Regions from separate parts of the Homo sapiens genome. Here region 1 is linked to region 2. Evidence: fine-mapped expression QTL. Tissue or cell type: whole blood. Region 2 holds a variant in brackets; the other region holds the start of a gene. All regions are shown on one strand. Distances are from middle to middle.

Region 1 (5,113 bases), 63 kb after region 2:
AGTGAGCCGAGATTGTGCCACTGCACTCCCACCTGGGTGACTGAGCAAGACTCCATCTCAAAAACAAAAACAAAAGAAAGAAAGAAGCAGGAAGTGAGCAAAGGGATCGTGGAAACAGAGATTTGAGTGATGAAGCCATGAGCCAAGAAATGCCAGCAACATTTGGAAGCTGGATGAGGCACGGAACAGATACTCTCCTTGACCCTCCAAAAAGGGACCAGCCCTGAGGATACCTTCACTTGGGCCCAGTAACACTGATTTGGGACTTCCCGCCTCCAGAGTCATCAGATAACAAATGTGAGTCATTTTAAGCCACTGAGCTTGTGTTAATTTGTGAGAGCAGCAACACGAAACTCCTACACCTTTATTCTAGCATTAGTCACACTGTGTGACAGGTGCCGTTCTCACTCCACTGACAGCTCCTCAGCCTGGGGCACCTTTGTTTCCTGATGGTTTCACACAAAGCCTGGTGCTTCACAAGGGCTCACAAACACTGCTGAATGAATCAACAAGTGGACTCACCTGCTTCATCCCCCGCCTGTCTCCGTCAGCCTGAACACACACACACTGTCATACCCACTCCTCTCACCTGCTCACCCACCACCACCCACATCTCCCAGGAGGACATTTCTATTTTTACCACAGCAGCTCACCTTGGGCTGGCCAGCAAATAGCTGTTTCCCTGGAACATACTGATTTTAAGTGAGGAGAGGGATTTCTCTCAAGGTAATAATTGGACAAATCTGCTGGGAGAAAAAGACTAACATTTTGCTATGGTGGATTTGAAACCCAAGAATTGGCATTGTAGCACAGAAACGCAAAAATCTTTCCTAATGAGCCATTGATGTTCGCAAGACACAACCCTGACTCTTCACAATCCCCATTCCTCCCCACCCCATCTCAGCCCCAAGGTGGTCACTGGAAGGATGGTGAAATCTGTATTTAATGACACTGAAAGATGTCCACTTTATAGCATTAAGGGAGAAAAGCAGATTCCAGAACAGTGTGAATAGCGTGATCCCATTTTGTTAAAAAATTAAATCTACAGACAATGTGTATGTGTATGTATATACATACATACATAGGTGTACGTGAGTTTATGTACGCATAGAGCAGAGGCTGGAAGATTGGTGAAGATGTTAACAATGGTTTTATGGGGGTTATGGACAGTTGTTTTATCTGTATTTTTAAAATTGTTTTACAAAGAACAAGACTACTAACATAATGGGAAATAAAGTTCAAGTAATTTCAACATTTAAAAAGTGGAGCGTTTTGCGCGGCAGGGCTATTTTTTGTGTGTCCGTTCCTGGACAGCCCCAGCTCGATCCCCCGCCCCTCCTCAAGTGGGAAGCTGGGATCTGGGCTCCCCAGAGCAATGGCGGAAGCTTCGCGCAGCTGCGGGCGGGGAGAGGGACGCGGCCAGGTCGGGGGGCCGGGAGGGGTGCTGGGAATCGGAAAACACAGATATGACCGCGAAGGCGGTTTCTGCCGAATGACCAGATGATGACCCGCTGTGGGCCCAAGGCGGAGTGCGGGGAGCCCGTTCCTGCCCGCGGTCCCTCTCCCTCCCCCACTGCCACACCGGCCCCGCCGAATCCTCCCCGGTCTCCTGGGCGAGGACAGGTGCCGCCCGAGACCCCGGCCGCAGACAGATGCCCACGGTCACTCCGGCCTTCCTCGGCCCCATTCGCCGCACACCCCCTTCCTGCGGTGGCGTTTTTGTTTTAACTCTTCTGAACTGGTTACAAAACCACCCTCCCACGAATACATAAATAATGGGTGGGGGGCGATGTTTTAAAGAAATTCCCGCAAGGCCTGGCAAGGCAACAGCAACTGCATTTCTGCTGCATCATATTTAACTGTTTGCAGGCTGCTGCGGGAGATGCGCGGTGGCGGCGAGACTCGGGCTCCACAGCCCTTCTCCGCCCGGGGCCTGGCGAGACTCGCGTGGGGATTAAGAGGCAAGGAGAGGGTGTCAGCGATCGGGCGCCGGCAAGATGTGAGGGGGGGTGATAAGCGTAAGGCCGCAGCGTGCCCACAAGCCGGGCACCCATCGGGTCGGCCGGCAATTGCTCCCTCCGCCCGCGCGGCCCCTTTAAGAGCCAGCGCGCGCCCCCGCCCCGCGAGCGCCGACTTTCCCTAGCAACCGCCCCGGGGGAGGGGGAGGTCCTGGCAACCGCGCGCCAGCCGCGAGGATCACGTGACGGCCCGCAGCTGGAACGCGAGCGCGCGCCCCGCCGCGCTCCCGCCCGCCGGGGCCTGGGCGCTGCGGCGCGTGCGCGAGCGGTGCCGCACCGGCCGCGGGCGCAGGGAGTATTATGGGCTGTGGGTGCCGCTGAGCAAGATGGAGCTGTCTGCAGTGGGCGAGCGGGTCTTCGCGGCCGAATCCATCATCAAACGGCGGATCCGAAAGGTGAGCCGCCGCCCGGGGCGGGCCGCCGCTGTCCGCAGCCGGGGCCGGGGCCGGGGGCCCTCGGGGCGAAGCGGTCCCGCTAGCCCGGCTCCCTCGCCCAGCCCCGCGCCGCCGCCTCCTCGCGTCCCCGCATCCTCCCCACCCCCACCCCCGTTTTTCTCCCCTCTGTTTTTCAGGGACGCATCGAGTACCTGGTGAAATGGAAGGGGTGGGCGATCAAGTGAGTGTCGCGGGGTCCGGGGGCGTCGCGGGAGGGGAGGCAGCGGGCACCGGGGCCTGGGGTGGGGGTGCGCGCTCTTGCTCTCGCCGCGTGCCTGTCCCTCTCTGGTCTTCATCCTGATTTTGTGCGTTTGTGACTCGGCAGGTACAGCACTTGGGAGCCCGAGGAGAACATCCTGGACTCGCGGCTCATTGCAGCCTTCGAACAAAAGTGAGTTGTTGGGGAAGCTGGCAGGGGCTGCGAGGCCGAGGCTCGGCTGGGGCGCCGCGCGGGGAAGCGGGAGAGCCGGGGAGGGCAGCGCGGAGTGGGGCCCGGGAAGGGGCTCTTTTTAACCTCTGGTGTTTTTCGGCCGCAGGGAGAGGGAGCGTGAGCTGTATGGGCCCAAGAAGAGGGGACCCAAACCCAAAACTTTCCTCCTGAAGGTAACCTGGCCCAGCCCCAGCAGCATCCCCCTCTCGGGCCCCCAGCCCCGGCACAGCACGGGGCCTGGAAGGGAGGGACAGATACGCGGCCGCCCAAGCGGGCCGGCCTTTTCAGAGGGGCCCCAGCTGGGCAGGGGGTGGTTGTGAGCCCCCCCAGAAGCCCCTGATGGCAGGCCTCAGCCAGCATCAGCTTCAACAAGAGGGTTTTGGGACTGGGGATAATCCTCCCTGTTGAAACCAGGGGCTGGGGATGCCTTTAGGGCTCCAGGAAAGGGGGTGGCTGAGGCAGGTGGGGGATGCCCATGGGAAGGGGGCATTTGTTTGAGCTGTTATGACTGTGCTGGGAGTTGGAACCCAGGGGGAGAGTGAGTGGGGTCCCACCTCCTGGCAGGGCACAAGGAGAGGATTTGGGGGACCACCTGCCTCCCTGCCCCCAGCTTCCCCCGTTCAGTCTTTCAGGATTTGTTCTTCATGGCTCCCCTCCTTTCTTGGGGATCCAACTTGAATTTGACCTCAAATCATTTTACTTTGAATTTATCACCCAGGCTGGGCCACTAACTTTAGGGCTCTGAGCCTCAGTTTCCCCCCACTCCCGGCCATTTCTGGGGGATGGGGATGTGGGAGTGAGAGCATAGCATATTAGTCTCTGCTAGGGAGGGAAGAACTTCCAGAGGAAGCCATCTTGGAGGATTTGGGTTTTTATTTTATTTTGACAAGGAAAAACAGAGTCTGGGAAAGGAAGGGCAAGATGGCCCTAGGTGGCAGGCACGGCTGCAGGTGGGACTCAGTGGGCCCCCTGTCTTCCTGTAGTGCTACGGATGCCTCAGGGCCCCCTCCCACCCGACAGCCGGTGACTTTGTGGGAGGACTCTTTTTCGGAGAAGAGAAGCAGAAGTGAAAGAAATGTTGGTTTCCAGAATTTCATATTTTTATAACCCCCACCCTCAAGCGACGCACATCCTAGGGGATCCAGGGAGTAACCTTAACCCTGATGCTTCTCTTGGGGAGGGATGGGCGGAGCAGCTGGAAGGCTGGTGGGCTGTGTGACAGCCTCTCAGTGCAGCTGGGGCACCCTCTAGCGGCGAAGCGAGTATGACCATGAGCATTGATACACAGAACGCCTTTTTTTCTTGATAGTTCTTTTGGTTCCTGAGCTGGCTGTGGGCCTAATACAGGGCTGAGCCCCCACATGGATTATCTCCTTTAATTCTTTCAACAGTTCCAAGAAGTAAGGAGTATTATCCCCATTTCACAGATAAAAAATCAAGGCCCAGGAAGGGAAAGTGACTTACCCGAGGTCCAGCTTCCTGGCTTCATCCTGTCTCCTTTTCTTCATCTTGTGCCTTGAGTAGTCCATGTCAGGTTAAAGGGGGAAGGCAGACACACACAGGAAACTATGAAGGCTGCAGAGTTGGCGTGGCAGGGGATAGAGACACAGATAGTAGGACTTTTTTATCTGGACCCTAAGAAACAGGTAGCCTGAGAGTGATGTGGATGTTTGTGAGGGGCTATGGAGATTAGCTTGGGCTGAACACATTGTTCTGGGGCTCCCTGAGAGGCAGTATGGCAGAGTCAGCAAATTACACTCAGCGCTTTCTGCCAGGAACTACTCTGAAGCAAACAGGAGCCCATGAGATAGCTTCCATCCTCCCTGTTTCACGCATGGGGAAACAGGGCCAGAGGTGTCCAGTAACTTGCCCACAGACATGGGGAGAGGCCATGGTAGAGTTCAGGTGCTTAAACCTTCACACCATCTACGGTGCTTGCCAAGCCCACAGAGCTATGCCTGTCACCTGGTCAGGGTGCAATAAGCATGTTGGCTACAGTTATTTTTAATTCATCAGGCAGACCCAGGTCCCACTTTCAAAGAGTTCTCCATGTGGGGAGGAAGAGGAAGGGTAAACCCTTTAAAAAATAATAATATATAGAAAGTATAAAGTAAGAAATGTCAATGTATGCCAAGCATACATTGGAAAAAGATCACTGCTTATAAGTCCACCACCCATGGGTAGGTCTGTTCAGTTATTTGCTGCGTGCCAGGCACTGTGCTGAGCAGGTG
Region 2 (5,195 bases):
ACACACACCCACACGCACACACCCACACACACACGCACACACCCATGGACACATTCATCACGACCTCACCTCTCAGTGGAACTGTGTCCTCTCTTCAACGGGGATAAAACCACTTCCCAGCATGATGGCTTCTACGGTTGAGTGGGAGACTCAGTCCAGGGCCTGACTTGGGGGAGTTCAATGTTCCTTCCCTTCCCTCCATAGGGCCAGGAAAGAAAGCCAGGTGGCCAATTCCCAGGCCAGCGTCTTCTCTCTTCCCACACCTTGTGAAGCCCACCTGACCCAGTTCACCCATGCCGTGGGAAGCCCTGGGCTGGGGCCCTGTGTGGTGCAGATAAGTCCAAGCTGGCCCCTGCCCTCTGGAAGCATCAGATGGACACCAGGCCTTCACTCACTCACCGGCCTGCGCCTTTCCACTGGGATTTGGTCCCTGCTGCCCAGACTGACCATACCTGAGCCTGAGCACTCCTTGTCACATGCTAGCCCCCTGCTTCTGGGAATGACAGAGCCTGGGAAGTAAAGGCCTCCTGGAGAGGGCTGGGACACCCTGACTTTGGGTGGTACAAGATGCGACACCCAGGGGAGTCTGGGGTGAGCTATGGGCAGGATCCTTTTCTGATTCTGCGTGTGTGCATGTGTGTGTTCGTACACACGCATGCACATGTGTGCGTGTGTGCCTGTACATGCATGTGTGCACACGTGTATGCATGTGGGTGTGTGCGAGCGTGTTCATGCACACGTACGTGCATGTGAGTGTGACCAAGCCACAGAAGCGGCAGGCCCAGCCATGTGGCAGCAGGGTCCGCTGTCTACAGATATACGCAGCTCCAGAGGCCAAAGAGAGCTTCCTGGGACAGAAAATGCAAACAAAACTGGTAATGGGAGCGGGAAGATGCAGAGGCCAGACTCAGAGACAGAGGCGAAGCGTGATGGACTCAAGGGCAGAGCTGAGACCCAGGTACTCCCGACCCCTGCAGCAGTGAGTCAGCGTCACCTTTTCTCTGCTTCCTGGGACCTCCAGGGTGGTGAACTCGGCTCCTTCCCCTAAAGGCTCCTCCTCTCCTCCTGGCCTCTTTCTAGGTCTTCTCTAGCCCAGCCCTGGCCACCTGCCCTTTCTCTGGGCTCCCTCCCTCCAGGAACTGGCTCTGCCCTTCACCCCAGCCAGGACACCTCTGCTGCAGCCCCCAAATCTGCTTCTCCAGCCTGACTCCGGGAGGCACACTAGCTTTTCAGCTCTGTAAGTTTCAGGAAACCCCTGGAATGTTCTTTTCAGAATGCTGATTCAGGTGGAACTGAAACTATGTCAAAATGGGTTTTAAACTACTTCAGCAAACTTTACAAAAATGTACAGAAAATGTCCCTATTTCAGATCTTATGACTCAAAAAGCAGGTACCTCAGCCAAGGTTATACTATTTCCTATGAGTACACTGTCAACTGTGAGAAGAGTGTTCTACTAACCCTTAAGTCCAGCTTACTGATTGTTCTTATTCTAACTGCCATCTAATTTAACAATGCTTAAAATATTATAACTGTCATTAAAGTGATGCATCCACAGAATCTCTGATAATGTAGAACATGAATAAAGTAGAACAAGTCTGAAGAAATTGTATCCACGACGTCGCTGAAAAAACTAAAAAGAAAGAATACTCAACTTCCATATTTTCAGGAGGATTCCATTCCTAGGGAACTAAAAGATGTCTCAAAATCTCTGATTATATCTTCCCTTTTAGATACGATCGTTGGCCATTTGGTTTCAGCATTTAAAACATGTCTTAAATGTTTTAAGGTGCGATGGCCAGGTGCGATGGGTCAGGCCTGTAATCCTAGCACTTTGGGAGGCCGAGGCGGGCGGATCACCTGAGGTCAGGAGTTCAAAACCAGTCTGGCCAACATGTTGAAATCTCGTCTCTCCTAAAAATACAAAAATTAGCCAGGCGTGGTGGTGCGCCCCTGTAATCCCAGCTACTTGGGAGGCTGAGGCAGGAGAATCGCTTGAACCCGGGAAGTGGAGTTTGCAGTGAGCCGAGAGTGCGCCACTGCACTCCAGCCTGGCAACAGAGCAAGACTCTGTCTCAAACAAACAAAAAACAAACAACAACAGCAACAACAACAAAAACATGGTTTCCTTCATCAGTGAAAATACACCTTTCCTCGGGCCTGGTGATGCCCAGATCTACCTGAATCGAACTATTTCATTCACATCTCCTTCATTTCCCTTGCTCCTACCTGCACTTTCCTTGCCCAACGCCCTTATCTTACAAGGTCACAAGGACAGAAGGCAGGAACAGTGAAGCGCTGGTGCACGCCCTGCTATAAAGGCAGAACCTGCAGTCTTGTTGGCAGGCTGCCCGCAGCCCTGGCATGGCCACACCTGACTTTGCCATGGCACGGTGCCCGGGAGCTGGGGATGATCACACCCCATGGTGCAAATGAGGGCTAGGCTGGGGCCTGGGGTACAGCCAGGGACATGGTGGCCAGGCTCCATCTGTCACATAATCGTGGTCAAACACCAAAGAGACCAAAGCTGAGGAACACTAGAATAGAGCAAAGTGTCAATTTTATAATCCGAATGAGAAACACATGATTGATAGAACAAACACAGGGTTAAAGCATACCGGGGAAATGTTCACAGCTGATGAATCTG[G/C]GTAAAGGGTATACGGATCCTCTTTCTATGCAATTTTCTGTCAATTTGAAATAAAATTCAAAGTTTAAACAAAAAATTCAAGTATTCACCATCTCTAGGTGGTAATAGGGATAATTTCCTTTTGCAACTTTTCTCTGCTTTTCAAATTGCCTGTGATGAGGGAGTGTTGTTTTTATCATCAGAAAACATTATTAAGGGCTGGGCATGGTGGCTCATGCCTGTAATCCCAGCACTTTGGGAGGCCAAGGTGGGCGGATCACCTCAGGTCAGGAGTTCAAGCCCAGCCTGGCCAACAAGGCGAAACCCCATCACTACTAAAAATACAAAAAAATTAGCCAGGCGTGGTGGTGGGCGCCTGTAATCCCAGCTACTCCGAAGGCTAAGGCAGGGAGAATCGCTTGAACCCAGGAGGCGGAGGTTGCAGTGAGCTGAGATCACGCCACTGTACTCAAGCCTGGGCGAAAAGAGCGAGACTCTGTCTCAAAAAAAAAAACAGAAAAAAGAAAAAAAGAAAAGGAAAAGAAAAGAAATGCTCTTGGGTGGTGTGGGGCAGGGGATGGGGCTCCCAACAAGGGTGGAGTTTGCATCAAAGCTGCTGGGGGCCAAGCCAAGGTAAATGTCAATAATTAATTCCAGGGTCCCCAGATCCTGCCCCGTGCCTTTTGACTTAATGGCTACTTGGCTGCAAATGAAAAGAAAAGAGAGGGGAAGGGCTGAGACCGTCTATGACTCCCACAGCTGGTTTTCATTGGGCATCTGATTCCCAAATGTTCAGTTCCTAAGTCAGAAAGATGGGAGTGGAATGAGAAGGTGAAGAGGAAGAGAAAGGCATGGCAGGCAGAAAGCAGAGCCGAGCAGAGGAGAGAGGCGAGTAGAAGCCAGGTGTGGGAGAGGAGAGGCCAGAAACTGCAACCTGCTGTTGCTTCAGGGAGGTGGCCTTAGGGCCAAGAGGAGCAGAAACAGGGGTGAGCAGGCAGCAGAATCAGCACACAGAAGGCCTTTTAAAAAAGTGTGGCATGGGCCAGGCGCAATGGCTCACGCTGTAATCCCAGCACTATGGGAAGCCGAGGCGAGTGGATCACTTGAGGTCAGGAGTTCGAGACCAACCTGGCCAACATGGTGAAACCCTGTCTCTACTAATAATACAAAAATTAGCCAGACGTGGTGTCACGCGCCTGTAATCCCAGCTACTTGGGAGGCTGAGGCAGGAGAATCGCTTGAACCCGAAAGGCAGAGGTTGCGGTGAGCCGAGATTGCACCACTGCACTCCAGCCTGGGCAACAGAGTGAAACTCCGTCTCAAAAAAATAAAATAAAAATAAAAACAAAAGTAATGTATAGTAAGATACACACAACATCAAATTCACCATTAAGTACATTCACAGTGTTGTGCAACCATCACCACCGTCCATCTCCATAACTTTTTCATCATCCCAAATGGAAACTCTGTAGCCATTAAACACCAAATTTCCATTTCCTCCTACCTCGGCCCTTGGTAAAATATCACCAGTTTACAAAACACGCAGGATAGCGTCTACCTCAAGCCTGCAAGTATGAGTTTATAATCACTAATTCTTGTCTGTTTTGTTTTTTTCTTTTTTTTTAAATTTGGAAGGCACGTAGGATTGTAAAGGTTAGCTGCCCAAGTTTGTCCAGCCACCACTCAGAGAGCACAAATGGTAGCCCCGGCATTGCAACTTTGGGAGGCTTGAGATGGTAGACATTGTTTGTTATCTATATAGGGTTGACTGTTGTAGCCTGAAATGTTTGGCTCATTCTTTTAAAAAAACTAAATCTTCTTAGAGTCTTTCCTCTAATTGTGCTCAAGTGAGCTCCAGAATCAGATTAAATAACCACAGATTCAAAGTGTGACAACTGTATCCTGTTTCATTATACAAATAGAAGTCTTGGGAAGTTTGCAAGTTGCCCAGAATACAAGCACTAGGCAAATTCAGATAGTTTGCAAGATTAGAGTCCAATCCTGTGGTCATTGGTAGACAGGCAAATTTAATTGAAGAGGTGTCACTGAATTCAAAAACTGAAAATACTTCAAAAAATAACATTGAATCAAATAGGTTTCAAAATTATTCCATGCAAAGGGAGATTATGGATAAAGGGAGTTGGCAACTGAGCATGCTAAATCAAATTCAGCTTTCATGATAAAATGGATTTACTATTTGCATTTGTTTAACAATGCCTCCCTAAAAGTCACCAGCTTCAAGAGTTATACATTGTATTGAAACGAATCTTAACTTATTAGGGGAAATAGTCATAGCAGGTAGCCAGTAGCCAGTGACAAAATACCAGCTGTGAAAATTGAGGCAAATTGAGAAACTAGAAGCTTTTCCACTAAGATCAGGAACAAAGCAAGGATGCCCCCTCTCTCACACTGCTTTTCAACATCTTACTGGAAGTCCTAACTAATGCAATAAGACAGGAAAAGAAATAAAAGGTATACAGATCAGGAGCAAGGAAATAAAGCTGTCTTTGTCTGCAGATAACATGACCATTGTCTTCGTCCATTGGGGCTGCTATAACAAAATATCTTAAA

Evidence for each region. PIP is the estimated chance that this variant, and not a neighbour inherited with it, causes the effect.
Region 1: it holds the start of CBX6, and the variant in region 2 is fine-mapped to the expression of CBX6 in whole blood (TOPMed, PIP above 0.99).

Annotation. Positions count from the first base shown.
Region 1 is chr22:38,869,422-38,874,534 of GRCh38, reverse strand. It overlaps CBX6 (chromobox 6), which reads left to right and starts at 2,319. Exons shown (of 5, transcript NM_014292.5): 1 at 2,319-2,413; 2 at 2,590-2,633; 3 at 2,778-2,843; 4 at 2,989-3,055. The coding sequence starts at 2,345. RefSeq lists enhancers at 1-160, 1-1,176, 1,013-1,562, 1,563-2,113 and silencers at 2,108-2,367, 2,398-2,547, 2,648-2,697.
Region 2 is chr22:38,932,390-38,937,584 of GRCh38, reverse strand. No RefSeq gene overlaps it. Among named protein-coding and RNA genes, the nearest start is that of APOBEC3A, 23 kb to the left of the region's middle. RefSeq lists an enhancer at 441-1,262. The variant G/C (reference allele first, on the strand shown) is at 2,646.